2 separate regions of the Homo sapiens genome follow, and region 2 is linked to region 1. The links come from fine-mapping of genetic effects on gene expression. Tissue or cell type: gastroesophageal junction. Region 1 holds a variant in brackets; the other region holds the start of a gene. All regions are shown on one strand. Distances are from middle to middle.

What was found. PIP is the estimated chance that this variant, and not a neighbour inherited with it, causes the effect.
Region 2: UNC13C starts here. The variant in region 1 is fine-mapped to the expression of UNC13C in gastroesophageal junction (GTEx, PIP 0.98).

The regions. Positions count from the first base shown.
Region 1 is chr15:54,276,902-54,279,668 of GRCh38, forward strand. All of the region lies in intron 10 of UNC13C (unc-13 homolog C), which reads left to right. Among named protein-coding and RNA genes, the nearest start is that of UNC13C, 300 kb to the left of the region's middle. The variant G/T (reference allele first, on the strand shown) is at 1,129.
Region 2 is chr15:53,977,180-53,979,946 of GRCh38, forward strand. It overlaps UNC13C (unc-13 homolog C), which reads left to right and starts at 1,262. Exons shown (of 33, transcript NM_001080534.3): 1 at 1,262-1,748. It overlaps LOC124903495 (a long non-coding RNA gene), which reads right to left. Exons shown (of 2, transcript XR_007064646.1): 2 at 171-366.

The DNA.
Region 1 (2,767 bases):
TTGGGTATAAAGTAAGCATAAAAATATGTTTAATAATTATTTTCAAAAGATAATTTCTATAATTGATTTTTTTACCAATGAAAGCATCTTCTATAAACTTTTACTGTTAATTTAAAAAATTTATTTGCACTATTGCTTCACTCTTATTTCTCCTTTGTTTTCAATGACATTTTCTTCCAAATAATTCCAAAGACATGCCTTTCTTTTCTGTGCACGATACTCAAACATTATGATATGAACTCAGATGTTGACATTTTTATCAGCATCTCCACAATGTTTTCCTGCCTGATGAAATGTTAAGAATGCCTTTAGTCTTCATTATATGTTTGTTATTTTCTTTCAGTTATGTTTCTACCCAGTAAACTTTGAAGCTGATTTTGACTAGAATTGGACTGGGAGGGACAATAAAATGGATAGCACTTCTTTTGACTTAGTTAAAGCACTAAAATAAGAAGTAGGAAGTAACCTCTTGAGCTTTTATTATGATTAGATCCATATCATCTTTTTTCACCCTGTCCTTACAGAACAATGTATAAGGTTAAGAAAGAACAAGATGGAAACCTACCACTAACTCTGGGGGAACATTTGGCATGACTTTTCACTGCAAGATGATGCCTAAGGCGCCCTCTGGCATTCATAGGTTTATTACTTTATAGAACTCTACTAATTGGCAGATAATTAAGTATATGTGCTGGGAAAATTTCATCAAAAAGGAGACATTAACTTTATCTTTTTAATATTGCTGCTACAAGGGCCATATTTAAAATGGTTTAAGACATGCTTTAATAAATATTTAATTTTAAGCAATTATTTGTTCCTTGCTTTGTTCCAAGGATGAATTAAAACAAATAATTCAGTTGTATTTTTCAATTGCATGTTCAATCACAAGGATTGAGATGAAACCAAATGATTTGAACCCAATCTATTTCATAATATGAGAGTAATGTTGTAGAAAAAAATGATACAGTTGGGGGAAATTAAGTAGCTGATAAATTGATGAACTGGCACTCCAGGCGATCTCAGATTTTGGAGGCTACTCTACAGTTAGAGTCCTTTAAGTACAAGTAGTAGCCGGTGCACAGTCAGAGAGAAACAATCCCCTTAGATAACTTTCTGTTTATGGAAAAG[G/T]GATCAGCGTGGCATGCAACTCAAAAATAACTCTTATGTCAATGCTCTCTACCGACCTAACTTTCCTTACCATCTTTGGCCACTCCATCCTGACCTGAGACCTCTGACTATTTTGCCTAGTTTTTGCTGTGCCTTTTTAAATATTGGCACCCAACTCTCTTTTCACCACTTTTTAGAAATCTTACCCTTTTTCTTTATCAGCCACTCCTTATGAGTATGGATCTTGTGATTTTAGAACTCCAAGAAAATTCTTAACAGCCAGAAGTTTCTTTACTGCTCCCTACTTTAGAGTCACATGTCAGGTTAATATTCTCATGTGAGCTTGAAAGCTTTAGATTTCTTTGAGTAGACAAAATTAATCCCCTATCTGGCGAGAGAGGAATTGGGAAGTTCCCTGAGGAATGGCTGAATTTCTGGAAAAGCATTCACTAATGTCTAAATGATCCTCTCTAGGATCAATGCTGTTCTCAAATGAATCAAATTTAGTATATCTTGATGATCCCAGGGCTTCCTCAACTTTGTCGTTAAGCTGTACAATGCCGTTCTTCTCTCCATCTCCCCGACACTGATCTCTTCAGTATCTTTAATAATCAGACTAGGTTTTGTGAATGCACTAGTTATTTTTTTTAAATGTAATATCTTTCTTATACTTGCAAAGCACATACTGGATTTTCAGTTAGGACACATCCTTCTTCATCATGCAGAACTGGTCATTACACAATCGAGCCATGTGAAATTCTTGACATTTGACCCTTTTGACCTATAAAAATGGAAATATTATATGGTTCAACCTAAAGTAATCGCTTTCATCAGAATGATTTCTATGTGAACCATCAGTCTTACCTCTTTATCACCTAGAGCACAGTATTTGTTATACTTTTTAAAATATAAGCTATGCTTATGTTTGATCAAATTGGGTTGTTTTATGTTTTATTACACAAACTTTTGGAAATATTAAATACATTCAAACAGGTGTCTGGTAAATTTTTCATTCAGATGTTCATAAACATATTTATTCAACTTTAGTTCTTATGGCACTTAAGTTTGCATTTTAATGATAAAGGGCAATACTGCAGACAGATGAGTACCAGTGCCAAAATATGACAGGTGTTGCCAAGTGTTTTGTGGTATTTGTGCAGTGACTTGGCATTTTCAAAAATTCCATCTCTTTGCATTTTTCACATCTAGCAAAAGAGCCCAGAGAGGACTGAGGAATAACCAACATTACTATTTGTGAATTCTTAAGAACATTTGCTCCGTTTGAGATAATTGGTTGAAGCTTAGACTTAAGTGGAAAAGTTAATTGGAATGTGAGATTTCCTAACATTTCTCCAGCAGTTCCTTGGTGATTAGTACAATCTTCTTTGTATAAGCCTGTACTGTGCTGTTGTATTGCTCATGTTTGGGATGAGAGGGATGTTAGTTGACAGTGTTTACTTTTGTGATTGCCTCTCCCGATTCAAGTTTGGTGTTCAGATAAAGTCTGTTTGGGAAGCTGATGGAACCACAACTTGTTACTGGCATTTCCATCATTGCCTCAAAGTTTCTTGAAAGATGGCAGCTCTTCTTTTCTAGCAAGGAAGGTGGGGGAATAGCTAAGAGAAAGGATGCCAGGTGTCTACAGAAATGAATGCTGACT
Region 2 (2,767 bases), 300 kb before region 1:
AAAGGTGGGGCTGATAGCTGGGAATGGGGAGGGCTCAGCTGCTAGTACCCAACATATATATTGTGTCACATTTGGGGACACTTTTTTAAACATCATGGAGAGGTTATTTATTGGTTGTCACATACGGTAGGTGAAATGTTTTGCCACAAGTTTTGCCACAAAATGCTATATCCGGTTTAACTGTTTATTTTGATGGCAACTATTATTATTGAATATTTAGGTGGAGTCAATTCTAATGTCAGTCAAGACATATTCATCCCTCCATGTACTGAAAAATGCCATACAAATCTGTATATATGCTTCCTATACTGTTTAACCACAGCTGCTAGTTGACGTTCTTCAGTCCTGGAAATATCCTTCCATTTTCTAAAAAGCAAAGAAAAGTAAAATTTTAAGTAAGCAGTAGAGCAGATGTAGCTTAAAACCTCCAAATTATTTCAGGCCTCAAGCTGCTTTAAGGCTGTATTTTAAGATTCAGTACTTTTTTATTTGTTTCAACAGGAGGATTAGAGGATTGAAAATGCTTTATTGATGGAAAGTGGGAACTGTTACTCCCCCCACCTCCTCTACTCAGCAAAACTAAAAGAGAAAGCAAGTCCATTCAATTCCCAGCCAGATCTTTAAAATGTTAACATCAAATGAAAAGACATTATTCCTAAGTGAGAAGAAAAACCTTTGCATCACTGTAAGTTACCCATCATTTCCCACTTTGATTTATGCATGTGTCATTAATTGAAATTGTTCAGGAATCACCTTCAAATGGTTTTCCACAAAAATAAGAGGAAAAACCAACTGGGATGGGATATCAGTATCTCCTCTATTTAAATACAGGGTCCTGTTAGCTGCATTTGGTGGCTAATAGGGAATGATACTGTGTGCGGTATACTTTCATAATTCCAAGTACAGTCAAGTACATCTAAAACAGTCATTGTTGAATAACATGGGTAATTTAGTATTATCCACGCTATTCCACTGGCAGAATTGGCCATGACTGTCTCCTAGGTCATCATCCAGCGATAAAGGGAAGATAGGCTGAGGAAGCTCTGGCATTCAGGCGTCTCCCAGCGATGAAGCTGTGTCCCACACAGTTAGTTGTCAGTGCGGTGGTGAAGGCCACACCTGGCAGTGGCTACAGTGCGTCTCCTGTGAGCAGGGGCTGTAGCTCACCCTCTCGGAGCTACGCCGTGCTACGGCGGCAGGAGAGGGAGCCCGGGCGCTCTCGGTGGAGGAGGCTGGGGATCGCAGTGCCGGTGCTGCATTCAGAAAAGACTCAGCCGCAGCCGGCGATGTGTGAAGTTCCCAGCACGCACTCAGCCCGGCTGCTCCTCACCCTCAAATGTTGATGAGCCTGGGCGCTCCTCAACACACGGGAGAGATCCCATTTTGCTTTCTGGGAGAAAGAGATGAGAAATGAGCCGCGGAAGGTATTTGGCAATGAGAAGAGTGAAAGGCAGTTTCTTGCCAGCAGCTAAGTTGTAGAATTGCTTCGGAGGCTACCCGGGAGTGCGATAGAATTGACAAGAAAAGAACAGACACCGTTGCAGACCAAGGCATGCCTGATTGCACGAGTCGGATCCCTGGGACGCAGCTTCCACTCCTGTTCTAACTATTTGTGATTGAAAAAAGGAAACGAGACTAGAAACACAATTGCAAGTGGTGTTCCTAAAAGGAAAACACATACACTCCAAAAGGAGGGGAAGAACAACCCAGTTGGCGTGCACATTTTTTTTTAAAGGAGAATTCCTCAGGTATGTTCTTTCCTCCGTTGCACGCACTGCTTCATCTGCATGCGATTTTCTGTCTGTATTTTCCTGTCCCTTCTTTTTGTTTGCACTTGGAAATCACAACCATGGGGTTCTCTTAGCGTAGCAGATATATTTGTAAAATCTCGGCTCTCCTGTTTTTATAATGTACATGATTCTATGGAGCATCATGACTTCTCAGTCATTGCTTTTAAAAAAAGAATTCAGAATGATAAATGACTGCTTAGTTTCCAGTCAACTTTCAGGAGAATATCTACATAGGGACAAATAGGGTTGAGATGAAAGGCTGGGATATTCCATAACCCCTCGGAATTTTGGAAGAAAAAAATAGAGCTCAACAGAGAACAAAAGTTGAGGGCTTCTAGGAAAGGGTTAAAAGCCAAGATGTCATACACTAGTGTGTCACCCAAGTGTTTTTCCAGCTCAGCATCCAGTCTGAAGCAAAAGAAGCTTTACCAATGATTTTTTTATTTCTAGCTCTTCATCAGTTCTTCAAGAAGAAGATCCTGCAGATTTACTTTCAAGAGATGAATTGCTTAAATTGTGTGCTTGGTTCTGTTTTACAACTGTTCTGTGGTGCTCAAGGAGGCAGTCTAAAAAAATCCCTTTGGTCCAACAGCATGAGTAAACCCTAACTTCTGCAATTACATCATCAATATACTTGTATCATCAAGAGTAAGACAGATATACAACAATAGTAATGTTGGCTGTCTTTAGTACCTAGACGGAGATGACAACACTTAAAAATCAATTTTCCTCGTTAGGCTTTTAAGGAAAAACAGGAAAGAGGTTTGAGGGTGGGTAATGCTTATAAAGATTAGTTTTAAAATACTCTGCATTTCTTTAAGAAGCTAAAATTGTAAGTTTATATAATTTTGAAATTAATAAAAAACTTAATGATTTTTAGAAAATCATCTTACCACCTTTTGCTCATCAATACTTTTCATAAAAGTGGGTTAAATTGTCAATAAATTAAATGTGCATATGTCTATATTAAATGAGAT